Linked DNA regions of Homo sapiens. The protein of the gene in region 2 interacts with the protein of the main gene of each other region in a pairwise test. Each region holds a gene or a part of one and is shown on either strand. Other genes may lie near its edges.

Region 1 (7,764 bases), on a different chromosome or scaffold from region 2:
GCAAAATAGTGAGGTATAGGCATAAAGACAGACATTTAAACAAATGGAATAGAATAGACAGCCTACAAATAAGTATTCAAATATATGGTCAAATGAGTTTTGACAAGGGTGCAAGACCATTCAGTGGGGGAAAGAACAGTCTTTTCAACAAACGGTGTGGAGAAAACTGGGTATCCACATGCAAAAGAATGAAGTTGGGCCCTTCTTTCTGTATATGGTTTACCATACAACCTTTTTTGTATATGGTTGTACCATATACAAACACGAACTCAAAATGGACCTGTGACCTGAATATAAGACCTAAAACTATAAAACTCTTAGGAGAAAACATATGGGAAAAGCTTCTTGGCACTGAATTTGGCAATGATTTCTTGGATGTGGCACCAAAAGCACAGGGAATTAAAAAAAATTAGATAAATTGGACCACCTCAATGTAAAACTTTAGTGCATCAAAGGATAGTATCAACACAGTAAAAAAGCAACCCACACAATAACAGAAAAGATTTGCATGTGATATATCTGCTATGGGGTTAATATCCAGAATATTTTAAAAATTCTTTCAACTCAATAACAAAAAAAACAAAACAATCCAATTCGATAGTGGGCAAAAGACTTGAACAGACATTTCTCCAAAGAAAATATATAAATGATGGGCCGGGAGCCTTGGCTCACACCTGTAATCCCAGCGCTTTGGGAGGCCAAGGCGGGTGGATCACCTGAGGTCAGGAGTTCAAGACCAGCCTGGCCAACATGGCAAAACCCTGTCTCTACTAAAACACAAAAATTAGCTGGGTGTGGTGGCGGGCACCTGTAATCCCAGCTACTCAGGAGGCTGAGGCAGGAAAATCGCTTGAACCCGGGAGGTGGAAGTTGTAGTAAGCCAAGATCATGCCACTGCACTCCAGCCTGGGCGACAGAGGGAGACTCCATCTCAAAAATAAATAAATAAATAAATAAAAATAAAGAAAGAAAGAAAATATATAAATGGCCAATAAGCACATGCAAAGATGCTTGACATCACTTATCACCAGGGAAATGCAAATCAAAACCACAATGAGATACTACTTCACAACCATCAGGATGGATATTATCAAAAAATAGAAAGCAACAGGCCAGGTGTGGTGGCTCACGCTTGTAATCCCAGCACTTTGGGAGGCCGAGGCGGGCAGATCAAGAGGTCAAGAGATTGAGACTACCCTGGCCAACATGGTGAAACCCCGTCTCTACCAAAAATACAAAAATTAGCTAGGTGTGGTGGTGCATGCCTGTAATCCCAGCTACTTGGAGGCTGAGGCAGGAGAATCACTTGAACCTGGGAGGGAGAGGTTGTGGTGAGTTGATATCGCGCCATTGCACTCCAGCCTGGGCAACAAGAGCGAAACTCCATCTCAGGAAAAAAAAAAAAAGGAAAGCAACAAGTGTTGACAAGGATTGGAGAAATTGGAACCTTTTTTTTTTTTTTTTTTTTGAGAGAGTCTCGCTCTGTCACCCAGGCTGGAGTGCAGTGGCGTGGTCTTGGCTCACTGCAAGCTCCGCCTCCCGGGTTCACACCATTCTCCTGCCTCAGCCTCCTGGGTAGCTGGGACTACAGGCGCCCGCCACCACGCCCAGCTAATTTCTTTGTATTTTGAGTGGAGACGGGGTTTCACCATGTTAGCCAGGATGGTCTCGATTTCCTGACCTCATGTTCTGCCCACCTTGGCCTCCCAAAGTTTTGGGATTACAGGCGTGAGCCATCGCGCCCGGCCGAAATTGGAACCTTTGAGTACCGCTGGTAGAAATGTAAAATGTGTAGTCACTGTGGAAAACAATATAGTGGTTTCTAAAAAAAATCTAAGATAGAGTTACCATATGACCCAGCAATTCCATTTCTGGATATGTATCCAAAAGAATTAAAAGCAGAGACTCAAACACATATTTGTACATCCATGTTCATAGCAGCATTATTCACAATAGCCAGGAAATGGAATCAAATTAAGTGCCTATCATGGGATGAATGGATAAACAAAGTGTGATATATACACACAATGGAGTATTATTCAGCCTTGCATGGGAAGGAAATGCTAATGTATGCTATACCATGAACCTTGAAAACATTATGCTAAGTGAAAAATGCCAGTCACAAAAGGACAAATACTGTATGATTTCATTTATGCAGTACTTAGTAGTCCAATTCATAGAGACAGAAAGGAGAATAGTGGTTACCAGGGGCTGTGAAGAAGGGAGAATGGGGAGTTGTTGTTTAACAGGTACAGACTTCTGGTTTTGCAGATGAGAAAAGTTCTGGAGATGGATGATAGTGATGGTTACACAATAATGTGAATGTACCTAATGTTACTGAACTATCCACTTAAAAATGGTTAAAATGATAACTTTTATGTAATGTATATTTTACCACAACTTAAAAAACAACAAAATCAACCTATAGTTGCTATGGAACTAAAGTGTTTACACTTCCAACTTCAATTTTGATATCATTTTAACTTGTATTACTTAAAATTTTTTATGCTTAGTAAATAATTTCAAGGTTTATACTAATTGAGCCTCTCAAGCATATGAATCAAGGTAAATGTCAAATAAAGAAAACCAACTCTGGGTCCATAGCTAAAGGCATTTCCTAGGCAATAGATTCTCTTAACTCACCTATGTCAAGAATTCTGTCTCCAGGTCGGTTCCACCTCCAGCCCTCTAGCTGCTGATGCTCAGTGTACTGAAGCCTTCTGTCATGGAACACCACACGGAATATACTCTAAAAGGATACAACAAAATCAGATGATAACAAGACCTCTTGAAAATCAGTGCTGACAAAGAAAAACTAGCAGGATTCACTGCCAGTTTGTTTCTAAACGCAATCTAAAATTATTTTTCTTAAGATCTGTTTCACTCTAAAACCCATACCATACTAAGTGCTATTTCAGGATAAAATTTTATAATTTCTCAGATATAATCTTTTTTTTTTTTTTTGAAACAGATTTTGCTCTTGTTGCCCAGGTTGGAGTGCAATGGTGTGATCTCGGCTCACCGCAACCTCCACCTCCCGGGTTCAAGGAATTCTCCTGCCTCAGCCTCCTGAGTAGCTGGGATTACAGGCATGTGCTACCACGCCTGACTAATTTTGTATTTTTTGTAGAGACAGGGTTTCTCCATGTTGGTCAGGCTGGTCTCAAACTCCCAACCTCAGGCGACCCGCCCGCCTCAGCCTCTCAAAGTGCTGGGACTATAGGCGTGAGCCACCGGGTCCAGCCAATTTCTCAGATAGAATCTTTATAGTTAACTGGTACCATATTTAAAACTTGGCTTAAACTTCAGTCCGATGGTAACTAGGAATAAAGTACTCCTGTCTGAAGCGTTTCTGCACACCTCTTCTGTTATACCACGGCCTATCTGGCTTAGCTCTTCAGATGTATATGAAAAACTCACCAACTCCCCCGCTTGCTAACCCACCATACAACCTGTAAACACTGAGGGTAGGTAGAGCCTGTTTCCATCAACTTTCCTTTTGTTACTCTTACTTTGTAGAAGTGCCTATTAATTCCTCCCACCACCTTTTGACAAAACTCCTCTGTTTCAACTGTGCTGTGAATTATCAAAATCCTAACTGTTAATCTAGACTAAGAGAACTGCTCTTCATCAAAGTAGCTTCTGTTTTCCTTGCTATAAGACTAAGTATCAAAAAAGACACTGAGGCTTCTCTAAAGATCTCAAGGAGGTTACTTTACTCCACCCAAAAGAACTTCACTGAGCCAGGGGTGATTACCCTGGACAGGGAGTGGTAAGCGTTCTATTTCTGCAGCTCTGAAAAATTCATGTGAATACTGGGGCTTACTCTGACCCCAAAGAAATAACACATCAGCTTACTACTCTGCCAACAAATTACTGCAGGCAAGAGATACCATTAAGCCATTGGAAGCAAAAGAACATTAACAACAACAACAAAATTTAAAATCCCAAAAGGATTAGTAAAAAATATTGTACAGAAGAATGATTTATTCGTTTTACCTTCACCAATTTGCCATTAATTTCTGGAAGTTCTCCAAGTTTCCTATTGTCTAGCATTCGAATTTCATAAGACTGTCCTAGAAGAAAAAGTAATTACATATTATATTCACCACAAATTAACTTTGCTAGATTCGGAAAGAATAAAATTCAGTTGGTTGAATATACAACAGTATAATAATATTATTAGTATTAGTAACAACAATCAGAAGCCTTTACAAGATGCTCAGCACTGTGCTAAGTATTGTCACATTATCTCATTTAACTGATATACTTTTCTAAGGTATTATCAATCCCATTTTACAGACAAAGAAATTGAAACTTAAAAGAGTTTTAGCAACTTGTCCAAGGCCACACAATTGGTAAATAATAGAGCCAGGTAGAGTAATACTTCTCAGACAGTAACCAATGGGAGTGTCTAGGGAATATGATTAGGAAGAGGAAGCTGGACACTAAAAATGGACAGCTAAGCAAAAGAAGCTAGTAATAGATATCAAGTATGACATTAGAACTCAAATCTCTGAAGTAGGACTTCTAGTTTGATAGGCCACACTAGAAAGATCTAAGTTTTTACATATAAGTGTACCTAATAAAACATCATAAATGGCCGGGCACGGTGGCTCACGCCTGTAATCCCAGCACTTTGGGAGGCCAAGGCAGGCGGATCATGAGGTCAGGAGATCGAGACCATCCTGGCTAACACGATGAAACCCTATCTCTACTAAAAATACAAAAAAATTAGCCGGGTGTGGTGGCGGGTGCCTGTGGTCCCAGCTACTCAGGAGGCTGAGGCAGGAGAATGGTGTGAACCCGGGAGGCAGAGCTTGCAGTGAGCCAAGATGGCGCCACTACACTCCAGCCTGGGTGACGCCGTCTCAAAACAAACAAACAAACAAAAAAATCATAAATACAGTAGGTCTGCAATAGTACTAATGAATGAGGAAGCATCTAACCTTGATTGAGATACGTTAGGGTTTCATCATGGAGTTTCACTGCTGGAGAGGTAGCAGCACAAAGCACATATTGAAAAGGCAGGATTTTATTCTCATTATCAGGAGGCAAACTCGACTCTTCTTGCTTAAAAATGGGCAATGCAAGGACATCACTAAAATAAAACAAATGACTCACATTAATACCTGGCAATGGTGCAAACGCAGGTTTATTGCTGAATGATTTAACTGCAATGCTTTGGAAAGCCATAAACATTACTCACCTTGGTGGAGTTTCATCCCAAGAATTCCATTTAGATTACCTGCTGTGATATCCCCCTGACCACAACAGTGTGGGTGATGACAGATATTCACTGCTAAAACCACTAAGTGTTAAAGAGAATGTTTCTAGGAATCATAGACAGGGGTTCCTAAAAGGACTGTGGAAATTATAAACAGAGTTCTAAAATGTATAAATCTAGGACATTCAGTAACGTCTTCATTCTCAGAAAGGCAACAACTATACTATCTATATAACCATATCAGCTGATTTACTATAAGGACTAAAATAACTTCTACAATTCCTTAGAAGCCACGTGAAAAGGACAAATCAATAACGAGTATATATTTCAAGGTCATCTTACATTCTGTGGAATAACAACTAATATTGAGATGTTCCTACAAGCCATTTCCTCTAAGAAAAAGCTTTTTGTATCTATCAGTTTATCTAAACTTGCAAACCAAAGACACATACCCATCCTTTGTCAGTGGGAATGTAAAACCACACTCTCATCCTTTTGTCAGTAGCAATGTACAATGACATAAAACAGTTTAGGAAAAGGTTTGGCAGTTTTTTATAAAATTAAACATGCAGTCAGGCACAGTGGCTCATGCCTGTAATCCCAGCAATTTGGGAGGCCGAGGTGGGCGGATCACCTGAGGTCCGGAGGTGGAAACCCGCCTGACCAACATGGCGAAACCCTGTCTCTACTAAAAATACAAACCTAGCTGGGAGTGGTGGCGCATGCCTGTAATCCCAGCTACTCAAGAGGCTGAGGCAGGAGAACTGCTTGAACCCGGGAGGTGGAGGTTGTAGTGAGCCGAGATGGTGCCACTGCACTCCAGCCTGGGCAACAAAGGCGAAACTCCATCTCAAAAAAAAAAAATTAATTAAAAAAATTAAATTAAATTAACCATGCATCTATTGACCCAGCAATTCCACCCATTGGTACTTATCCAAGAAAAATGAAAATGTAAGTCCACCCAAGACTTGTTATAAATGTTCACAGCATAAAAGCAAAAACTAGGCCAGGTGCTCACGCCTGTAATCCCAGCACTTCGGGAGGCCGAGGCGGGTGGATCACCTGAGGTCAGGAGTTTGAGACCAGCCTGGCCAACATGGTGAAACCCTGTCTCTACCAAAATTACAAAAATTAGCTGGGTGTGGTGGCGCATGCCTGTGGTCCCAGATACTTGGGAGGCTGAGGCAGGAGAATCACTTGACCTCAGGAGGCAGAGGTGCAGTGAGCCGAGATCGTGGCACTGCACTCCAGCCTGGGCAACAAAGCAAGACTCTGTCTCAAAAAAAAAAAAAAAAAAAAAAAAGAACAACAACAACAACAAAAAAATAAAAACTGGAAAGAACCTAAATGTTCATGAGTAAGAGAACGGATGTACAAACCATGGTATATCCATACAATGGACTACTCAGTGAAACAAAGGAATGCAACACGGATGAATCTCACAGATATAATGCTCGACAAAAAAAGCCGGACACAAAGAATGTGTAATGCATGGTTCTGTTTATATGACAGTCTAAAACAGGCAGAGCCAAAGAGAACAATGGTTTCCTGGTGGGGCAGGGGATGACTTGGAAGGTATATAAGGGAACTTTGTAGGGAGATAAAAATGTATTATACTATGATAGGTCTGCTACGTGGTTGTAACTGTAACAGCTTATTTTTGCATCTCATTGTATATGAATTTTACCTAAAAAAAAAATTATTGATTAGAGGATGGGGAATAGGTAGAAGTAAAAATAATAAAAGAGGGCTAGGTGTGGTGGCTCACGGCTGTAATTCCAGCACTTTGGGAGGCCAAGGCAGGCAGATCACTTGAGGCCAGGAGTTCAAGACCAGCTTGGCCAACATGGTGAAACCCCATCTCTACTATTAATAAAAATACAAAAATTAGATGGGTGTGGAGACACACATCTGTAATCCCAGCTATGTCAGAGGCTGAGGCACGAGAATCACTTGAGCCGAGATTGTGCCACTGCACTCCAGCCTGGGCGACATAGCGAGACTGTGTCTCAAAAAAAAAAAAAAAAAAAAGGTAAAAAGAGTAGTAACATGTTAAAGCAAGGTGATGAGTACAAGAGGGTTCATCATATTATTCTGTTTACTTTGTATATGTTTGAAATTTTCCACAGTAAAGTTTTTTTTAAAAAAGAAAAAATATATATAGGCCACAGAGTACTTCTGGGTACAAAAGAAAAGGAACAGGGTACATGAAATAAAAGAAACAATTAAGATTCCCTTGGCTAGGCACGGTATGGCTCATGCCTGTAATCCCAGCACTTTGGGAGGCCAAGGGGGGCAGATCACTTGAGGTCAGGAGTTTGAGACCAGCCTGGCTAGCATGGTAAAACCCCGTCTCCACTAAAAGTACAAAAATTAGCCGGGCGCGTTGGCGCGCGCCTAGTCCCAGCTACTTGGGAGGCTGAGGCAGGAGAATTGCTTGAACCTGGGAGGTGGAGGTTGCAGTGAGCCAAGATCGTACCACTGCACTGAAGCCCGGGAGACAGAGCGAGACTCCATCTCAAAAGAAAAAAAAATAT
Region 2 (8,468 bases):
AGTACAAACTCCCAATAACAGCAGTTTTCTCTGAATACTGTCTGTAGTAAATTTCAGGATGCAAGTTTTTCCCTACAGAAATAAAAATACCGAGTTCTTATGGTGACCATTTATGCATTAAACCAGGGAAAATCACCGACACTTAAGCAACATGAAAATTGAAGTTTAGTCCTAACATTAAAAGCAAAAAGGTCTGGGCACGGTGGCTCACGCCTGTAATACTAGCACTTTGGGAGGCCAAGGTGGGCAGATCATGAGGTCAGGAGTTTGGGACCAGCCTAACCAACATGGTGAAACCCCATCTCTATAAAAAATACAAAAATCAGCTGGGTGTGGTGGCACATGCCTGTAATCCCAGCTACTCAGGAAGCTGAGGCAGAAGAATTGCTTGAACCCGGGAGGCGGAGGTTGCAGTGAGCCGAGATCACGCCACTGCACTCCAGTATGGGCAAGACAGCGAGACTCTGTCTCAAAAAAAAAAGCAAAAGTCAGGCTGGGCACAGTGCACAGTGGCTCACGCCTGTAATCCCAGCACTTTGGGAGGCGGAGGCGGATGGATTACTTGAGGTCAGGAATTTGAGACCAGCGTAGCCAACATGGTGAAACCCCTTCTCTACTAAAAATATAAAAATTACCCGGTGTGGTGGCAGGCACCTGTACTCCCAGCTACTAGGGAGGCTGAGGCGTGAGAATCCCTTGAGCTCAGGAGGTGGAGGTTGCAGTGAGCTGAGATCATGCCACTGCACTCCAGCCTGGGCGACAGAGCAAGACTCTGTCTGAAAAAAATAAATAAATAAAAGCAAAAAGCATGCAATGCCACAATGCAACAGAAAGACTTGCAACAAACTCTTCAGGTCACTTGCATTAATTATCTATGTATTCCTTCATGACATCTTAGTACACTGGGATTCTAAAAATAGACAACATGTTATAATTATGTTTAAATACTCTATTTATAAACTAATAGGAAGGAAAAAAGCCTAACTAAAGGGGCAACTACTATTTAAAGAATTAACCCCAGATAGTGTCCTAACAGAAGTACTTTATTATGAATGGCTTCCACTTTCCCTTTGTATAAAGAAGAGGATGCTGCCTCACAGAAAATCTAATTTAAGGCAAAATATCAAAAATATGTAGAAGTCACCAATACTGCAAGACCACAATAATAAGCACCACAGTAAATCGACTATATGGTTAAAAATAAATGTAATGAACACTCTTCACCCATAAAGGAACCACTGAGTTAATGAAAGCCAACTTCACACACAATTTTAACAAAGCTGAGTATTTAATTTTCAAGCCCACAGTTGATGGAAGGTGGAGATCAAAATGTCATTTTGCAGGTAGGTGAAGAAACTGAAGCTCAGAAAGATAATTGGGCCAGAAAGTCCAAATTTTTCTAACCTAAGAAGTTTACATACTTATACACTCCTGACAGCAGGAGCACTCCTGACAACTGACTGCCTAGAAAAGCCTTAAAAAGGAAACCAACAATTCAAATGCGCAGAATCCTACTACAAGACCCTATAGGATCTCAGAGCATCAATAATTCTGAATCATAAAGAAATAGTCAAACAATGTACAATGAACTCTTGTTTAAGACACAGAACCATGTAATTTGTTACAGAAATAATTCTGTCCCAACTCGTTAACATAAAAAAAAGGGGAGTGCTAAAACGGGTAAATTTTCAGGATATATTAAAAACAGGAGAGAAGCAGCCATTCTAAATGTATCTTTTCTGGATTTTATAGCACGATTTCAAAATTTATAAAATGTTCACCCCCCCACCCGTCATTGTTACAAAGTAGCAATTACCGGCCATCCTGTTACCAAATGGGAATACACAAAGACAAAAACGTGTGTGTGACCGACACACACACACACTCACTCTTTTTTCCTGGTTTTAACTACTGAAAGTTAATATCAGGCCCCCCTAATTTCTAAAACATCTAATTGTTCTTTGGACAACTATGTTAGTACCAAACTATAAAAGCAAATACTTTTGTATTTGTGTTCACTACTGCAAAATGTTGGTTACACACAGAAAGGGCTATCGTGGAAAGAAATTAAAATCAATGCACAAAATGGTGCTTTTATAGCATTTCCAAAACGATTGTGCATACTCCTTGCCAGCACATCTAGACTTTGCTCCTTAAGACTAAACATGAGCTGGCCGTGCGCGGTGGCTCTCGCCTGTAATCCCAGCACTTTGGGAGGCCGAGGTGGGCGGATCACGAGGTCAGGAGATCGACCATCCTGGCTAACACGGTGAAAACCCGTCTCTACTAAAAACACAAAAAATTAGCCGGGCATGGTGGCACGTGCCTGTAGTCCCAGCTACTTGGGAGGCTGAGGCAGAAGAATCACTTGAACCCAGGAGGCGGAGGTTGCAGTGAGCCAAGATCGCGCCACTGCATTCCAGCCTAGGCGACAGAGCGAGACTCCGTCTCAAAAAAAAAGACTAACCAAGAACCAAATTAGCATACTTCCCCTTCAGGCATACTGAGCCCCGAAATCATCATCTTCCTCCTAAAGAGTAATTATCTCCTCCTAAAAGGCCTGCGCAGCTCACAGCTCCTCCGAAACACGGGGGAACTTCGCGAGAGCTCAAGACCCTGGACTTGAGTTTTAGAAAAATGCTTAACAAAGTGGCCTCTGCCACTTAACTGCACGACAGCCACTGTGCTGTGAGAGGAAAAGGTCGAAAGAGGAGGAAAGCTAGTCTTCAATTTTAATCCCTGTGATTCAGGCTCTTCGCCCGTCACTCTCCAACCCTAGCCTGACAGGACGTCAGGCTGTCTCCCCCTTCCCCACCAGTCCCGCCACCTACCCCGCAACAGTGCTGAGTCTTAGGATTTTGAAGCTTTAAAAATCAACCCGGCTCCCTAGAGTTCAGGCCGCAGTCGCTGCCGCCATGTTACAGCTTGTGCGGCAAAATGCGTCAGTGAGGGAGGTGTGCGCCTGAGTGGGGAGGGCGGGGGCTGGCAGAGGAAGGACCGTCCCCAGGCCCCGGGGCTCGACTGCAAGCCTTCTCCTTCTGCAACAGCGGCAAAGGCACTGCTGCGGTCCTCAGGGACTTCCTCTGGGCCCAAGCAGCCCCGATACCTCGAGGGAAAGACGGTAAACCCAACCCGGTCAGCCGCGCCGGCTCCGCCCCTCTTCCCAGGCCCTTCCCGCTTTCGTACGCAGGGACTGCTGAAATGACGCCGCCAGAACAACTTGAGCCTCATACCACTTACCTGCACCGGTAGAGTTTTCCTCTTCTCTGGGTCCGGTCCTTTGAAGCGCTTCAAATCTACCGCCGCCAGAAAAGGCGCTAAAGCCCGCTAACCGCCTCCCTCCCCCACAACTCAGTCCTGGCATGGAGAGACAGCGTCGCACCGGAAGCGCGTCAGGAGTGGGTTGTCAGCATCGGCCAGCGTTCACCTGCTTGCGTCACCACGCCCTCCTAGGACTTCTAGGATTTTGGTGCCTTTTAAATTCCTAGTTTATAGGTGGCCTAATGCTTTGTGGATGCGTTGACTGGGAACGCTTGTAACCGTTAAAATGCCATATCCTTTGTGAAGTAAAGTGCCTCATTTAATAAACATTTATTGATCTTACGCTAGGTTATCAGAAAGGAAGGCCTACCTTCATGGAGCTTCCAGTTAAGCTTCCACTTAACGCTAGGATATAAGTTCTAAAAACGCAGTAATGAGCAAAGTGTTATTTGAGGAAAGAGGAAGAAATTACAAAGAGCTTTGATGTTCTTTGTTGTTTTACAGATAAAGAAATTGAGGCTCAGGGAAGATAAACGCCTCCTCCTCAAACACACTGTTCTTGAATGCCAAAGCAAGTCTTTTGATGCCAAATCTAGTGCCTTCTAGAGAAAATATGGCATATATTATTTAATTATTTTAAGGGGCAAGGGTCCCCGGATTATGTTAGAAATAAATAACCATTGCTGTTTGGGCGGGGGGGTGGGGGGGGATGGGCAGTGATTCTGGTAGGGATGTGGGGTGTGTTTTAAAGGAACTAGCTAACTAGAGGACTTAAATTGTTCTGTCGTTTAAAGGCAACGTAAATTATGATCATTTAAATTTTTCACTCACTTGCATCAGGTAAATTAATTATCAACAACAGTTAGGCATGTGGTGGTGCTTCTAAGGGGCGTGACCAGTTTTACACAGCAGTAAAACAGAGGACATTTCTGCCTCTCCACCCCCACCTCTTTTAAGTCATTGCCCTTTATTGCAGGAGAGCAGCAGCATATTCATCTTTAGATAGTTCAGAGATTAAACGGATTTACACTTCGCTGTGTGTGGAGGGGACAATTCTGCAATACCTTAAAACAGGGGTCCCCAACCCCTGGGCCACAGACTGGCCTGGCTAATTTTTTGTATTTTTAGTAGAGACAGGGTTTCTCCATGTAGGTCAGGCTGGTCTCAAACTCCCAACCTCAGGTGATCCGTCCTCCTTGGCCTCCCAAAGTGCCGGGATTACAGGTGTGAGCCACCACGCCCGGCCAACGCTTTTCGAAAGAAGACATACTTGCAGCCAACAATCATAATGAAAAAGCTCAACACCACCAATCATCAGAAAAATGCAAATCAAAACCGCAGTGAGATACTATCTCATACCAGTCAGAATGGCTATTATTAAAAAGTCAAAAAATAACAGGTGCTGGTGAGGTTGTGGAGAAAAAGGAACATTTTACAGTGCTGGTGGGAGTTTAAATGAATTCAACTATTGTGGAAGACAGCGTGGCGATTCCTCAAAGACCTAGAGGCAGAAATACCATTTGACCCAGCAATCACATTACTGGGTATATACCCAAAGGAATATAAGTTGTTCTGTTATAAAGACATACACATATGTATGTTCATTGCCACACTATTCACAATAGCGAAGACATGGAGTCAACCTAAATGTCCATCAATGGTAGACTTGATAAAGAAAATGTGGTACATATACTCCATGGAATACTATGCAGCCATGAAAAAGAATGATCTCATGCCCTTCGCAGGAACATGGATGGAGCTGGAGACCATTATCCTTAGCAAACTAATGCAGAAACAGAAAACCAAGTACCACATGTTCTCACTTATAAGTGGGAGCTAAATGATGAGAACACATGAAGACATAGAGGGGCACAATACACACTGGGGCCTATCAGAGTGTAGACAGTGGGAGGAGGGAGAGGATCAGGAAAAATAACTAATGGGTCCTAGACTTAATACCTAGGTGATGAAATATTCTGTACAACAAACCCCCATTACACAAGTTTACCTCTGTAACAAACCTGCATATGTACCCCACAACTTAAATAAAAATAAATAAATGGAAGGATACTGTATGTATAGTGTATATAATAAACAACATTTGTTATCCTATAGTTTCCTTATATATATTTATATATATATTTATTATCCTAGTGTGTGTATGTATACATATACTATATATGTGTATATATACATATATATACACACACATATATGTACGTGTGTGTGTATATATGTGTATATATATATAAATAAGTGTTGTTTAAGCCACTAAGTTTTGGGATGATTTTGTCACACAGCAAGGGATAACTGACACAGAGAAGAAAGAATAGACTGATTATCACGGAACTTTTCACTTGTCTAATTCTACATAGCTTCATTTTTTTTCTTTTTTTCTAGAGACAGGGTCTCATTATGTTGCTCAGGATGGACTTGAACTCCTGGAGTCAAGCGATTCTCCCACCTTAGTCTCCAGAGTAGCTGGGACTACAGGTATGTACCACCTCACCCAGTGATGACCTCACATCATAAGGATCTGAGTTTCTGCCAGCCCGAATCATCAAATGCCAGAGAAGTATTTTACTAACATAGCAGTAACAGCTCCAAAATTTGTACTCCCACTTACATAGTAGGGGGTGTCACTGGAAAGTGTCTGTTCTGCTAAGAACTACATTTTTTAGCTGTCCCCTTGTATCTTAGTGGCTTGAAACAACATTTATTATCCCATAGGTAAGGATTTAAAAATGCTTTTTGGGGCCGGGCGTGGTGGCTCATGCCTGTAATCCCAGCACTTTTGGAGGCTGAGATGGGTGGATCACGAGGTCAGGAGTTTGAGACCAGCCTGGCCAAGATGGTGAAACTCCAGCTCTACTAAAAATACAAAAATTAGCCGGGCACAGTGGTGGGCACCTGTAATCCCAGCTACTTGGGAGGCTGAGGCAGGAGAATCGCTTGAACCCAGGAGGTGGAGGTTGCAGTGAGCCAAGATTGCACCACTGCACTCTAGCCTGGGTGACAGAGCAAGACTCCATGTCAAAATAAATAAAATAAAATAAAATAAAATAAAATATAAAATAAATAAAATATACTTTGTGTCAGTGGAAAGTGAGCGGACATCCAGGCCAAAATGTTTGTGAAGTGCTATGCCTTCTCCATTCCCTCTCTTCCTGTTTTGTCAGCTGAACCAGAATGTTTTAAGGCCCTGGGGAAGGGCCTATGGAAAAGGTCTACTTCCCTGAATCTCTGTTTGGAGAAAAGTCCTCTTCCACTGACTAGGGATATCCACATTGGAATGTGGTGTGACTGATAAATCAAATTATGTGGGTTAAATCACTGATGTTTGGCTTTATTTGTTACACCAGATACCACTACCAATCTAATAGGCTGTGAGCCTAAAGTATTAGATTTGGCCTAGCCTGGATCACTTCAGTCATTGTAGTATGAGGAATGGGATTTGATACCAGAAGAAGGGAGGTAGGTTGGCTGGGCTACTGCAATTAACCTTTACTTTACCTGTGACTTTTGCTTTAGAGTAATAAAACTTTTTGTTTCTACCCATAGATCAACAACAAACTGTTGTTTGTTCTATTAATAGTTGTCTACTGTATCACCAATAATATGTTTAGTTTTTTTTAAAAGCATGCCATTCTCTGATTGTGATGGATCAAGGAAAAAACCAGACACTTCCATAATCTTGTTTCAGACAAAAACAAGAACATTGTACAAACTGTAAAAACGACCAAACATCGGCCGGGCATGGTGGCTCACGCCTGTAATCCCAGCACTTTGGGAGGCCAAGTCAGGCGGATCACAAGGTCAGAAGATCAAGACCATCCTGGCTAACACGGTGAAACCCTGTCTCTACTAAAAATACAAAAAATTAGCCAGGTGTGGTGGCAGGCGCCTGTAGTCCCAGCTACTTGGGAGGCTGAGGCAGGAGAATGGTGTGAACCTGGGAGGTGGAGCTTGCATTGAGCTGAGATCGTGCCATTGCACTCCAGCCTGGGTGACAGAGTGAGACTCTGTCTCAAAAAAAAAAAAAAAAAAAAGACGAAATATCCATCTATCCTTGCTAATATGAATGGCTGCTGTTTCTTTATCAATTACAGCTTTAACCTCAGTTCATTCTTCCTGCCTTCTAGATCAAGATTATTAGAATAGAATTACCCTTGCTTACTCACAGCATCCAATCTAGAGAAACCACTCTAAAACTCTCCAAAATCACTTAACACAAGGCTAAAAAAAATTTTTTTTTTCGAGACAGAGTCTCGCTCTGTTGCCCAGGCTGGAGTGCAGTGGTGCAATCTTGGCTTATTGCAACCTCTGCCTCCCGGATTCAAGTGATCCTCCCACCTCAGCCTCCCAAGTAGCTGGGATTATAAGCATGTGCCTCCATGCTTGGCTAATTTTCGTATTTTTAGTAGAGATGGGGTTTCACCATGTTGGCCAAGGTGGTCTCGAACTCCTGACCTCAAGTGATCTGCCTGTCTCAGTCTCCCAAAGTGCTGGGATTATGGGTGTAAGCCACTGTGCCTGGCCAAGACTATATGCTATAATGACAACTTTCTAACACCTTCTTATGGAGACACCTCTTAGGGTACAGCCTACTTCATTGCAACCAGTCAATAAACCCAACTTTGTTTAACTATATGTGTTCCTGGTGTTTTTTGACTGGAAGGCAATGACTTGGATCATGCTGTTTCATCTCTATGTTTTTCTTACATTTGTTTGAAAACCCCTTCTATGCTGTGCATTCAGATTACCTTCATCTCAGATCTATTATCAGTTGATCTAGTTCCAAGCAACCCAAATCAGTGCTGTATAAAATTATTGTCTGGGATTAGTGGTTGTCTAAAGTATTGGAGGACAGGAGGGGGTGAGGGAGACATGGGGAGTGACTGCTAATGGTTACAGGGTTTCTTTTTGGAGTTATGAAAATGTTCTAAATGTGAGTGATAGCTTCTCAACTCTGTGAATATACTAAAAAGCCATTGAATTGTACACTTTAAATGGGTGAATTTTATGGGACGTAAATGAAATCTCAGTAAAGCTGTTTAAAAAAAAAAAAGTGTGGGCTGCCAACTGTCAGGAAGTGAGCATCCAGAAGCTAGACGTGTCCCAGCTGCCCAATTGCGTTTGCTGCATTGGCATCATTTGCTACAGGCATGAGGTTGGGTGCAGGCAGTTGTCTGAGCTCTGAGGCATGG
Region 3 (7,436 bases), on a different chromosome or scaffold from region 2:
TCTTTAATGGGCTGGTCTGCAGGATGTATGGCCCAGTGAAAGATACTCCCCCATTGCACTTTAGAAAAAAGAAGGAGAAGCAATTTCAAGAAGGCCAAAGGCAAGAGGAATTTCCCCCCATATACCTCCATAGAATAAAAGGTGACTTCAGGCTGGGCACGGTGGCTCATGCCTGTAATCCCAGCACTTTGGGAGGCCAAGACAGGTGGATTACCTGAGGTCAGGAGTTCGAGCCCAACCTGATCAACATAGTGAAACCCTGTCTCTACTAAAAATACAAAAACTTAGCTGGAACGTGGTGGTGCACCCCTGTAATCCCAGCTACTCGGGAAGCTGAGGCATGAGAATCACTTGAAGCTGGTAGGCAGAGTTTGCAGTGAGCCGAGATTGTGCCACTATACTCCAGCCTGGGTGACACCTTGTCTCAAAAAAAAGAAGAAGAAGAAGAAGAAAAAGGGTGACTTCAGCCCAGAAAAGCAATATTCGACCTTCAGGGTCATTCACCCTTGGCAGAATAGAGTCTGGGAATTTATCTGTACAGTTACTTTCCTAAGCAAATGAGCTGGGGGGTCTCTGAGGCAACTGACCTCCATCTGTTGTTTCTGTATATTTTAAAAGAGAAATCGATAATGGGTGGACCGAGCTCTCCCTTGTCCCCAGAGACATAGTTCAAGTATTCTTGTTCAAGCATTTTTTTGCTTTCAGGTTTTCTTGCCTACAGGATTCTAAGACCTTTTGGCTTTAGCTTGATTTTCTCAACTTATCTCTCAAAATTTTTCAGTAACAAAGCTCCTTCTTCAAGCAGTACTTTATAGAGACCACGATATAGGAAACAGAAAAACTCAGGATTTTATTAGCATATATTTATTTTATAACTTCACATTTATAACATTTTACTTTGTATACCGCCAATAAATGACAATGAAACTATTTTCATAAATACAAAAACACATGAAATTAGGGTGTCATGGTAACCACTGCATCACTTTGGTGGAACAGTATTAAAAATAGAATTTAGAAAGATAAATGATCACAAGTGATACCTTTTAAAAAATGCTTTTCTTACAATCTCAGGATATTCTTCAGTTAAACTGAACCACAATCAGAAAAAATAAGTAATTATTTAAAAGTCAAACCTCTAACAATTGTCAACAACTGCTGGAAGAGTCATCACAAATATAAAAAACAACAAGCACTCAAATTTACAATAAGAGATGAAACGGTTTCTAACACCAGGGTAGACTGGAAGTCAACTGGAAGCATATTAGCTTGTTACCACACAACTGTCAGAACAATAAAGAAAGCATGCATTGAGCAGACAGGAACATCGTGAAAATCCTAAGAGCTTCAATGTATTGAGGGCTTTCTGTGTTCCAGATGTCATGCAACGTGCTTAAAAAGCATTAAGTCATTTGTTCATAACAACCGTGTACTCTCATCTTCTTATTTTTCAGATGTGGAAACTGATGTCTAGAGAAGCTAAGCAATTTGCTTACAGTATGCACAAATCTACCACAAGACTACACATCAACTGTGTTGGAGATTTGCCTAGCACATATAACTAAATGGTGCTCATCTGCACTGCACTCACACACTTACGTGATACACAGGTCTGATCTAAATACACAGGTCTGATCTACACAACCATGTGGTGCTACCGCTTTTAAAATCTGTGAACAATTAAAAGAAGTTTGGATACGTACACAGATACCATAAAGGAAACTTTGCTCTAAGGTCTGCACAAAATGAGCCAATCTGAAAATAAAAGTAAACCTGGTGGTGAATGCTGATGTGTTAAAATTTGGTTATCAGCCCATTTGAATCTAGCTGCATTTACTAGAGACTTAAAGAGTTTAGCCCAGGCATGGTGGCTCACACCTGTAATCCCAGCACTTTGGGAGGCCGAGGTGAGTGGATCACTTGAGGTCAGGAGTTCGAGACCAGCCTGGCCAACATGGTGAAACCCCATTTCTACTAAAAATACAAAAATTAGCTGGGCGTGGTGGTGGGTGCCTGTAATCCCAGCTACTCGGGAGGCTGAGGCACGAAATCGCTTGAACCTGGGAGGCGGAGGTTGCAGTGAGCTGAGATTGCACCACTGCACTCCAGCCTGGGTGATAGAGCAAGACTCAGTCTCAAAATAATACTAATAATAATTAAAAAAATAAAGAGTTTAAAACACATTTTGGAGATGGCACTGCTAGAAAATCTGCAGAACTGCAGAGCACAATTTGAAAGTCATCGTGATGGTAGAGGATGGACTAGTGTGAGTCAGAAAGTTCTGGGCTTCTGTCTAGGCTCCATCACTTCTTGGCATTTTGGTGTTGAGGAGACCACTTAACTCATCTGAGCTTCGGTCTTTCTCTTTATAAAGAGCAAAATTATACCACAACAGGGTGGCTGTATACATTCAATGAGATATACATGAAACACTTTGCACACAGTAGGCCCTCAATAAATGTGAGTTCCTTTTCTCTCCTCTTCATCCTTTGTTGCCACTAAAAGCCTTCTCTAAGCAAACCAGCCTGCTCACTAAATCCAAACCTGCCCTAAACAACCCTGCTCTCAAGCATGCAGTCCCCTCATGTCCCCCTTTCTTTGGGGACACCTCTCAGGCTGTGGACCTCTGGAAAGTAAAGCTTAGGTTGAGTCATCTGTGTCTTCAGGGCCTGACACAGCACCTAGCTCTGGGACCATCTATCTGACACCTAGCAGAAAGGCAGGAAGAACACTTCCCAGGTTAAAACAACAACAACAATGACAACAACAACAACAAAAATCTGCAGGCAGAGGTGGTCCTATTCACTGGGTGATGACACTTTTACTGGGGTGATGAACTTATTTACACAAAGGGTTAGTTAGCCTTTTACCTGTCTAGATCAGCTCCTCATCTAGACTGGAACCTCTCTGAGGGCAGGGCCCATTTTGTAGGTTTATAACTGCTCAACTGCAGGTTATAGCTGTAGTCTTGTAACTCCTTGTACAGTGTCTCACAAAGCCAGGCACTCAGAGAGAATTTGCTGATTTGAGAAAGGAAAACACCTGACAAGTCAAACAGCTTTATTTTTCAAACATTACAAAAGGTATTTTTTTTTTTGACTGCCAATTCTTTCTTCTATGGTATGGGCCAATTCTGGTCTATTTGGGATTATTTAAAGAAAATTGGAAGTACAAGTGTTTCAGATTCCTTCAGGCTTACTATTTAATATTTGGAGTTTAATCTTTTGTTCATTAATAATCTACATAGGGTCTAAGAAACTCCTAGATATTTTTTTCTTAAAAAGAAAAATCAAGGGCCAGGCATGGCGGTTCATGCCTGTAATCCCAGCACTTTGGGAGGCCGAGTTGGGCACATCATTTGAGCCTAGGGGTTCCAGACCAGCCTGAGCAACACAGCAAAACCCTGTCTCTACCAAAAATACAAAAGAATAGCTAGGCATGGTGGTGCGTGCCTGTAGTCCCAGGTACTTGGGAGGCTAAGGTGTGAGGATCACCTGAGCCTGAGCCTGGGAAGTCAAGGCTGCAGTGAGCCGAGATTTTTGTGCCACTGCACTCTAGCCTGGGTGATGAGAGTGAGACCCAAGAAATAAAGAAGAAAGAGAAAAAGAAAAAAGGAAGGAAGGAAGGAAAGAGAGGAGAGGAGAGGAGAGAGGAGGAGAGAAGGAGAGAAGGAGGAAGGGAGGGAAGGAAGGAAGGAAGGAAGGTCAATAATTGGCTTTCATGGTTTGATTTCAGTCCCATACATTAAAGAAAAAAATTTTTTAAAGGTCTTAGCCCACTGGCTGTGGGTCCTGCCCCCAGGTGGTTTTCAGTCGTCTCCCTCATGATTCCAGCGGCCATAGCCATCTCGTTCCTCTGGCTCTTCGATACTCTCATTCTCAAAGGAGGCCTCTTCCTCCTCTTCTTCCCGTATTACCTTCATTAGCTCAAGGAAGCTGGGGGGCGGGCCCTGATCCTTCAGCTCCCTAAGCCGGCACCACAGCATCTGGTTAAGAGTGGCCCCAGCCATGACCTGCTCCAGGCGGACCTGGTCCGCAATACGCCGAGGGATGGCGCGTTTCTCCACCGCTCTCCGGAGCAGGGTTTCTAGCCGTAACACATAGGCTGAGACCTTCTCTCCTTCCTCCTGATAGGTCTTCAGATACCTCACCTGGGCTGTCCTGCGGCTCTCTAGGCTCCCAAACACTTGCTTAAAGGCCTCCAAACACTCTTCTACACTGATGGACGGGTTGTCTGCCTGCACTATGTGCATGAGGTCCAGGGCAGGGCCCCGCAGGCTTTCCGCCAGCCACCTTTTCTTTTCTGCCTCTGTTACTGGCCACTCTTTGACTATCTCCGTGGCCTGTTCCAACCAGACCTCAAAGGACTCTTCCTCTGGGGCTGGGACAGCACTCCCTGAGAATACTCGCAGTTTCCGGTATCTCATGGGTAGCAGGGGCTGAGGCGCATGTGCCATTGCCTGTCCCAACAAATGGGCCAGTAATTCTGGTGAGATGCAGGGCACTGTGGCTGGAGACACGCCCTCCTGCCCCAGGGCTCGAAACATACCCGAGACCGTCTGCCCCTCTTTTTCTAGAAACAGGTTCAATCTTTCAAGAAACTCAGTGTCCTGATTAGGGGTCTTAAAGATCACCTTCCAGACACCCCCCTTTCCCTGGACCTCACTGGGAATGGCCGAGACATCAGTATCTTCCAGAAGCTCTAGTAAGACAGCATTGGCATTCTCCTGCTTCCGGAATATCTTGCCAAGCAGTCTATACCTGCCCAGAGACTTTAAAGTCTCCTGAAGGACCTCCTGAATCTCAGCCTCCTCAAAGTCCGCCGGTATCCCCGTAACCATCAGTGACTTCTGCTCATCCACACTCATTATCCTGCACCAGTCCTCTAACAGTGCCAGCGCCATTGTCCTAAGAATTGACCCACTCTGACTCTACAGGCACCAATTTGTTAGTGGTGCAGCTATGCACTGACTTAATATTGAAAATATCCTGGATGAGCTTCTAACCTTAGAACCCACCAATGAATGGGTCCCAGACTAGGTCACTCAAAGACAGTCACAAAGTTTTCTGGACAAATGACCCTGGCCTACTCAGTGGCAAGAACTCAGGACTTCTTGTCTTTAGGCCTGACCCAGGTGGGCAGGTCGTATCTCAGTTCTAACCACACCTGTGCCCGCAGCTCTGAAGTCCGATTGCCAGTGATTTTCTCAAAGATGCTGGCAGCCACGTGACGCTGACCCTTCTCTGATAGTTGAGGCACCTGGGACAGCTGCTTTCTCCACAGCCTCCTGGTCTCTGATGTTTCGTCTCTCTCCAGTTGATGGGAAAATGCCTTCCACTCTGGGACCCAGAACTCTTGAAGAGAAGCCTCCCAGCAGGGCGGCTTGGACCCCTGGTGAAACAATGTTCAGTTTTACTACACAGCACTCTCTTTCCTTGGAAGCATCCATACTCTAATCTGGAATGGAACTGGGGGCAGATGGCGGTTCTGCTTTACACTGCGCTTGCATTTGTCCCACTCTGTCAGACCCCTTCTTTGCTCACTGTGACTTTTTTTTCTCTTGGGGACTCCAATGAAATCTGGTGTCCCCACCATATGCTCATCAGACCTGTTGATTAATGTCTGAGCCCCAGTTAAGGACAGGATTCAAGGTCTTTGCCATTGAAAGATGAAATCAGGAGATGTGGCTAAATACCTGTTGATGTGTTCCCGAGTGTTCCGCGAGAGGTGAGGAGCTTATTTATTCACCTTTTAGCACAGGAAGACATCACCCACCTCCACACAGTGGTGTGTCTGGCTCTTAGCTCCAGCCAAGCCAAGCTGCTCTGTTACACATAAACAATAAGAACAGGTATTTATGCTTCATTAATATTCAGTAGGAAGACCGTTAATGCACTTATTCAAAAATATGATAATCCTTCACAATACTACTCAATATTAAGTTGCTTTACCTCTTTGATTAACAAAACTAATGAGGAATCACTCAAACGTTTAAAAATAGTTTAATCTAGGTATAACAATTCAGGGAAAAAAATCTCAGGGCCGACTAAGTTAAATCGGGAATTATGAATTAATTCTCTTTTGTTGTGTCTGGAAGGCTTTGCAAACACACATTTGGGCTTTGCTTTTGCTATGAATGGTAAGTGAAATAGTTTGAAGGTTTGTCCCCTCCAAATCTCATGCTGAAATGTGATCCCCAGTGTTGGAGGTGGGGCCTGGTGGGATGTGTTTGGGTCATGAGAGTGGATCCCTTATGAATGGCTTGGTGCCATTCTTGGGGTAATGAGTGGGTTCTTGTTCTATTAGCTTCCTCGAGATCTGATTGTTAAAAACAGACTGCCACCTCCCTCCCCTCACTCTTGCTCCCTTTCTTGCCGCATCTGCTCCCTCTTTGCTTTCTGCTATGACTGGAAGCTTCCTGAGGGGTCACCAGATGCAGATGTCAGCACCATACTTCTTGTACAGCCTGCAGAACTGTGACCCAAATAAACCTCTTTTCTTTATAAATTATCCAGCCTCAGGTATTCCTTTATAGCAACACAAAATAGACTAAGACAATAAGTTACTAACACAACACTCTCCAAGCATTTGTTTCTGTTTCTGTTTTTTGAGACAGGGTCTCACTCTGTTGCCGAGGCTGGAATGCAGTGGTGTAAACACGGCTCACTGTAGTAGCCTTGATCTCTCCTGGGCTCAAGCAATCCTCCCACCTCGACCTCCTGAGTACCTGGGACCACAGGCACATGCCACCATGCCTGGCTAGTTTTTTAAATTTTGTGTAGAGACGCAGTCTCCTTACGTTGTTCAGCCTGGTCTCAAACTCCTGGGCTCAAGCAATCCTCCCGCCACAGCCTCTCACAGTGCTGAATTACACACTTGAATCACCACACCCAGCCTTTCCTAACATTTGAACTTTAACCCATCATTTGAGAAAAAAGAAAAAAGGAGGAAGCACACCTATCAAGGATTTTGTTCTGGAGAACCTGTGAGGATTAGAGAACGTAAAAAAGTTAGAGTTGGCCAGGCGTGGTGACTCATGCCTGTAATCCCAGCACTTTGGGAAGCCAAGGCGGGTAGATCACTGAGGTCAGGAATTCGAAACCAGCCTGGCCAACATGGCCAAACCCCGTCTCTACCAAAAATACAAAAATTATCTGGGTGTGGTGGCACGTGCCTGTAATCCCAGCTACTTGGGAGGCTGAGGCAGGAGAATCGCTTAAACCTGGGAGACGGAAGTTGCAGTGAGCCACGATTGCACCACTGCACTCTAACCTGAGTAACAGAGCAAGACTCTGTCTCAAAAAAAAAAAAAAAAAAAGTTAGAGTTCCTAATACCTCCCAGTTACTGCTGCGGAGTGTGTGTTAAGGGGCTACAACCATTTCCCCCTTGGCCTAAACATCTTCATCAATTCGAATGGGGGCCATACGCCACAGTG
Region 4 (6,783 bases), on a different chromosome or scaffold from region 2:
GTGTGGATTTTGAGGGGAATGTAAAGAAAGATAAATGCTTCCTTCTTGAGTCCCTTAAAGCAGATGACCTTAAAATGAACGATGGGGAACTCTTTGACAGTCTAGATTAATCTCGGTTTTCCAATCAATAGTTTAATAGGTTTTTTTTGTTTTGTTTTAGGGGAAGACACAATCCACAGGGCTAGTCCCAGAGTCTTTCCCAGTTTTGAACGTCTCATGCTAAATGTGGTCCAAATACCACATCTACCCAGGGTTTGCTTTTTTTCTGACAACATCCTCCTTCCTGTCTGGGGCTGCTTTTCCAAGCATAGCAAGCACTTGAATTCAACTGAGGGCTGACAAATTGACCTTACTCCCCAATAAAGCTTGCTCTTTTTAGCTCAGGGCCAGGGAAACACAGGCTGTCACTTGGTCAGATGGAATCTTAGGTAAAGCAATTTCCTCTTCCGATCCAAGCCTGAATATCCAGTGGAAACTTGTAGAATAAAGCCAGGCTAAAGTGTTGTTCTCAAACATGTTTATTTGTAACAGTTTTACATGGTGTGTTACAGAAATTAATGGAAAATTTCTAAAAATTTTGCTGTTCTGTTGAATGCATTGTACATAAAGTTAAAAATAATGTGTCCATATATGTTAACAAACTGTCATCTGAGGTAAAGTTAAAGTAGGTCTAGAAAGGTACTGCAACAGTCATTTTCTCTTTCTCATCTTTATTAAAAAAATATGTGTCAGAACGCAGAAATTGAAATGAACCAAACCCACAGAGTAAACATTTGTTTAAAAGAAGGTGCCCAGTACATTACATGATGGGGTTTCAGGAGACACTGGGATGAGTACGAGCTATCAAAAAAGTCTTGCGGCATGTAAAGATTGAAGAGCTATGGAGAATGGGGACAGAATGACAGGTGGTGTTTCCCTGGTTTCAAAATTTAAAGTGACAAATTTAGTGCTAGTGGAGGATGAGGAATTAACAGTTGTACACATGGATTTTCTATTGATCTAACCAGAACCGTGCAGACTCCCCATGGTCTTTTGGTATTGGCACCTCAGCTCTTGCTTGGAAATTTCACTGTACTCCTGGGACAGGATACGGTGCTTCCAGGCTCACCAAACAGTGCTTGGAAAAAAATCAGAATTCTGCCAATGAGAATATGGATGGCAGTTGAAAAACTTGACTTTATTTCCCTTACTTTAATGCATCACTTGGGCATCTATCTTCTTGAAGTTCAGAGCCAGTTACATTTTCAATCATGTTCAATGAAAGAGGACAATTCTCCTGGACTTTCACCTTCTGCTAGGAAATTAACTCCAGATGGTATACCTGAAACAGCAACATCAGCCAGAGTTCACTTTGAATGTGTCAGAAGCAACCCAAAGAATTGGTATAATGGTGTGATACTGCAAGACAAACTCAAGACAGCCATATTGAGGGAGAAGATAGCACCACTTGTTTAGAATCAAATCATAGGCAACAAAGCAATTTAAGCAATTTCCCATGGGAACTGCCTATCTTACCAAATCCCCAGAAAACAAACTGGTCTCAGGCCAACTCTTATGGTCATTCCACCTTTCCCATCTTCCCGTTCATGTGAAAGGGTTACCTAATCATAAAATGTTTGCTCATTTCTCAAGAAACTCTGTGGACCAACAGGTGATAGCTACAGAGGGAGGTAAACGGCCCTTCTCACTTTTCTGGTTCTTCGGACCTTCCACATTAGGATGATATTGACATATATTCTTGAATAGACGTTTGGTCAGTTTATCTAACTGAAAAAAAAATTAGACTCCTGTGACCTGATAGTGTAAAATGTGGGCTTTAAATGATAACCATTACCTTCATGTATCACTTTTCGCTTTGTGAACAAGTATACAATCATTTTTCAAATGAATCTCCCAAATCATTTTAGTTTCTATTGATATGAAGAATCAAATGCAGGCCTATTCAAATCAATTGTCTCAATGGAAATTCTACTTTTCAAATCTAAAAACCAAATAATAATAATTATCCTCAAATCCAATTAATCACATGAATCTTTAAAGTTTTCTTCTTAGTGTTAAAACACTTTCAACATACTGTAACTGCATAGGAACATCAGGAAAACACACTTGACCTGTATAACAATTCTCTGTAGGGCAAAAATATATAGATTCTTTATGAAAATCATGTGCTAAACATACGAACCAAACACTGCACTTTTTGTCTCATAAGTGTAAAAAAAGGAAGCTTAGCCTCTTCTGTTTCACGTACAAACAGTCCAGTGATTTATATCGGGGGTAGGTGGGAGTGGGGAGGTGGGAGAGTTTCAGAATCTGAATTCTTCAGAATGTGAATTGTCTTTTTCTTGTGTTGCACGTAGGGTGGGGACTCTCGTGGAAAGGCTAGATGATGGAGTCACGTGCTCCCTTCCCGTTCACTAGCTGCTGATTGGCCAACTGCTCCTGCCAGCTGTCCCTGCACTCCAGCTTCCTACCATATGCTCCAGAATAACGTCTGGAAAGTGAGCCCCATCCATCAAGTTTGTCACACCTTGCACTCAATCTGCTACCTTCTCTACAGTGTAATGGCATTATTAAAAATCATTTTCATTAACATTTATATTTACAAAAAAAAGACAATTTTTTTTCATTAGAACTCCTTAAAGCCATTTCCCTTAAATATTTAAAGAGTTTAATGGTAAGGTTTTTTTTTCAAGTTATAAAATAAAAATCCCATTTGAATTTTCTGATGTACAAAAAGAGATAGAGATGAACCATTTGGACCACAGAATCAGTTTGTTATTCTGAATATTTATGCCACCATTGTTCCATTAGAAAGTTGGTTTTTAAGATCCAAAACCACATTACCAGAATTGTACCAGAATTATTTGGCAAATGACTTTTCTTTGAAAATGGCACGTGGAGAAGACACTTGTCTGCATAGCAACACAGCAGCAAGATATCGGAAAAATAAAAAATATCATTTTATTGTACTTAGAGTTTAGAGCTTCTTAAGAAATCAGATGCATTTTTCATCTTTCTCATCAATGGGATCTGATGTCTTTTCCTACTCACAGAATGAAGGTTCGTACTGAAAGCTGTCTTTCTTCACCAGGATGCAGAATAGCTAAAGGACTGTTTTGGCAACATTCGTGATCATAATGAATAATCAACCACTTATTTGTCTTGTAATTTCAAGTTAATTCATTTCACTGAGGCTTTTTTTCTCCCCAGTTAGATTTCTTCACCCATATCTAAAAAAAGTCAAAAGCAATACAAAAATTTGTACACCTATTAATTTTCAAACATGACAAAAAAAGGAAAGGGGGGAAAATGGCAGACCAGGCCCCATGGAGTGACAAAAAACACATCATCCTATGTGAAAAGGCATATGGATGACGATATTGTGGTCACAGAAGACCCTTTGCTTTTGCTTAAAGAAGTCAGTTCCAACCCTGTTGTAATCCTCTGATGCCTGTCACTCCAAATTTGGTGTCTCAACAGTGGTCAACAGGTAGAGAAATAAAAAGGGAATTAATAATTTTGCACACTGAGTCATCTTAAACCCAGCTATGAGGGCTCAAATATTTGTTGGGTAAGCATTTGCTTGATTTCTGATTTAATGTTGGGTGGATCTTTCTATACTTTTTTTGTGTGCTGCCATAGATATCTGCCATTGGTTGCCAAAAATGCTTAGTTCCCTCTTCTGAGCGAGTTCCATTGGGCAATCATGAATTTCTTGTGGGAAGAGGTGAAAGAATACAAGAGAGCCTGTCGTGATGCTGATGTCCATGCCAGTCTTGAGCACCCACCACGAGCTCGCATCGATGCTATTTCTTAGGTCTGTTGATCTGCGCGTACAGAGGCTCTGGCTCCTGTGGATAAAGGAACAAAGTGAGGCCTGCTCTTTACACTTGCATGGATTTTCTGAGACAGCTTTGGGAAAAGGGGTTTAGGATTAAAACAGAAAAGTGACAGTTTATGATGGATGACCTTAGGTTATTTTTGGAGTATTTGATCAGGGTGCATAACATTTTGGCAACATTTTTATTATCCAAAATAGCTATGCACTCAGTTCTGTCTTTCGTTTTCAAGTTGGAACTGATTGCCCTGTTAGGGAAGTAGCATGGTATAGTAGGGAGAGTTAGAAAAGCTGTGTCATGTGGACAAGATACTTATCCTGAGTCTTGGTTTCTCCAACCACAAAATGGGAATAGTACTGTTTATCCTACGGGGTTCTTGAGGGAATTAGAGATTACACATATAAAGTATCTAGCACAATGCTTGCTAGCAATACATCTTCAGAAATTGCTAACAATTACCATGAGACAAGTGGACATTTTTCCAACACAGTTTCATAAATGTCCACTTGAGAACCCTGAAATTCTATTTCAAATTGCTCTTCTACAAATAGTGATGCCTGGGTGCACTGTTGAGCCAGAGAAACAGCAAGTGTGTCTTTGTCTCTTAATCACAAACTTCTGGACTTGTTTCCATTCAGTCTGAGCCCTCCACTTTGGCCAGTCATTTGCCTGCACCCAGGGGGCTGTCCTGAAACACATACAGGGATTTTCAACCAGCATGTAATGCAGCAAACCTGCAATCCACACCTAGATAGGAAACAGCGTTCGGCCCTATTTAAACCCCGTCAGACTTCAGCTGATGTTGAGATGGCTCATTGTGCCTTGGCCAAGCAGATTTGATGGATACTGTGGTTTTAAGCATGCACAGGACCTTCTGTTAAAATTGACCTTTATGCTGTCACTCTTGGAGGTCTGTGCCAGAATTAAACGGGCACAATGAAATCCTAATTTTACCATATTTGATATATTAGCTTGTCCCCTGCCTTGTCATATAGGTTCTTATTATTTGCTTTTTTCTTGAAACTTCAAAATGAATTGGCATTCTGGGAGCCCCTACCATGTGTCTGGCACCATGCTAGGTATTTTCAAGTACATTGTCTTTTTATCTCATCACAACAGCCTTGTAAGGCAGATGCTTTATCTCTTTTGCAAGGGTGAAATTAAGCACAGAGAAGTTAGATAATTTGCCCATGGTCACACAGCTAGTAAGTCTAGAGACATGAGAACTGAAAACAGGGTCCAGGGGCCAGTGCTTTTTCTAATCTTTTACAACAGTGACCATGAGGAGGGAGAGACAGAGAGAGAGAGACCCCAATCTTTCCATCCATTGGTGCTTCAGAGTTTACAAAGCACCTCATGTCTTATTTATCTGCCTTATAGTCCTGAGGGTGGCTTTTATTTTTTGAGTCCTCCCTTTGCAGATAAAAACTGAAGTTCTGAAAGGTTGTGTGATCTCAAGGTCATTGTGCTGTCTCTTGTGTGTAGCATATCATATTGCTTGCTTTCTACTGTAAAGTGGAATGGCCTAGAAGATAAGGTTGTACTGGCCCATCATTGTACAGATGAGGAATCTGAAGTCCTGTGAAGACAGCTTTTGTTTCTTCAGAGTCACAGGGTTACTTAGTATCCATGCCAAGAGTAGACCCCAAGACTCCTGCCATCAGATCCAATTTCTGGTTCCTCTAGAACTTGTTATGTTTGTATTCTTCCAGTGGGAAGGAACTTCTTTCCTTGGAGGCACCCTATTATGCAGTGTAACAAAGTGCCAACTTGTCCCTCCATGCCTTCTGCCCGTAGACTTTCTACTGCCCTTGGAAATGTAAATAAGTACAATCCTTCGTCCAAATGTCTGATGACAGAAAAGTACGGAAGCCCATTCTTCCATGTCCTACTTCTAGGTTACCACTTGCCAGTTCCTTCTGCCTTTTTTTTTTTTTTTTTTTTTGAGATGGAGTCTCACTCTGTCGCCCAGGCTAGAGTGCAGTGGCGCGATGTCGGCTCACTGCAAGCTTGGCCTCCCAGGTTCACACCATTCTCCTGCCTCAGCCTCCCGTGTAGCTGGGACTACAGGTGCCCACCACCACGCCCGGCTAATTTTTTATATTTTTTAGTACAGACAGGGTTTCACTGTGTCAGCCAGGATGGTCTCAATTTCCTGACCTTGTGATCCGCCCACCTCGGCCTCCCAAAGTGCTGAGATTACAGGTGTGAGCCACCGCGCCAGGCCTCCTTCTGCCATTTTACAAATATGAACCTAGCACAGTAGGTCCTCAATGAGAGTCTGTTGAATTACTGAATGATTATAATGCTGTTTCTAGTTTCCTCACAGTTCTGATCCCTTTGTCCTAAATACACTCCAATTTGGCTTTATTCTCTCAAAATCAAATGTAGCAAAATCTATAGTAAGATTATGATTTATTAAACACCAAATCTATTCCTTTCCAGTCTCTTGAACTATTTCAAATACATGTTGTAAGGCTAAACATGTAACTTTATTGTGTGTTTGTGTTCTACAAGTGCAGTAGGTGGAGTCAAAAATAGTTAAGTACAACTACTGGGGAAAAATATTTCCTTTTGCCTGTGCTGGGCTTCAAGCACGCATATTAATGTTTCCTGGATAGATGTTCTCAGCTCATTCTTCTTTTTGGATGCCCCAAGAAGTCAGGCTGCCTTGATCTCACCCTACAATTTGCTCTATTCTAATTTTGGAAACTAATTTATCCAACTGAAAATGACACCTAAAAACAGAAGAAGACAGCAGGCTCAGACAGGGTAATTAATGCCACACTGCATTAAGTTTCTGCAGCTGAGATAAATATTCACACATCTCCTACTTGCCCGAATTTAGCTTCAAATACCCATCACAACAGCAGTAACGACTGCAGTCAACTCTCAATTATCCCCACTAATGAAGGGGAGCAGTGGTGTGGAAAACCCCCAGCAG

The links.
Region 1: the proteins of PPIG (region 2) and TFCP2 interact in binary tests that used the Homo sapiens proteins (3 or more experiments, as listed by UniProt).
Region 3: the proteins of PPIG (region 2) and PNMA2 interact in binary tests that used the Homo sapiens proteins (3 or more experiments, as listed by UniProt).
Region 4: the proteins of PPIG (region 2) and DAB1 interact in binary tests that used the Homo sapiens proteins (3 or more experiments, as listed by UniProt).

What each region holds. Positions count from the first base shown.
Region 1 is NC_000012.12:51,113,672-51,121,435, forward strand, and holds part of TFCP2 (alpha-globin transcription factor CP2), read right to left. Parts: intron 5,102-7,764; coding exon 4,950-5,101; intron 4,077-4,949; coding exon 4,000-4,076; intron 2,750-3,999; coding exon 2,644-2,749; intron 1-2,643.
Region 2 is NC_000002.12:169,579,263-169,587,730, reverse strand, and holds the start of PPIG (peptidyl-prolyl cis-trans isomerase G), read right to left. Parts: upstream 3,381-8,468; 5' UTR 3,241-3,380; exon of another isoform or gene 3,234-3,240; intron 2,932-3,233; exon of another isoform or gene 2,832-2,931; intron 1-2,831. UniProt on the Homo sapiens protein: PPIase that catalyzes the cis-trans isomerization of proline imidic peptide bonds in oligopeptides and may therefore assist protein folding. May be implicated in the folding, transport, and assembly of proteins.
Region 3 is NC_000008.11:26,503,853-26,511,288, forward strand, and holds the end of PNMA2 (paraneoplastic antigen Ma2), read right to left. Parts: intron 5,826-7,436; 5' UTR 5,696-5,825; intron 5,392-5,695; 5' UTR 4,904-5,391; coding exon 3,809-4,903; 3' UTR 849-3,808; downstream 1-848.
Region 4 is NC_000001.11:56,994,278-57,001,060, forward strand, and holds the end of DAB1 (disabled homolog 1), read right to left. Parts: intron 3,871-6,783; exon of another isoform or gene 3,852-3,870; 3' UTR 501-3,851; downstream 1-500. UniProt on the Homo sapiens protein: Signaling adapter of the reelin-mediated signaling pathway, which regulates the migration and differentiation of postmitotic neurons during brain development.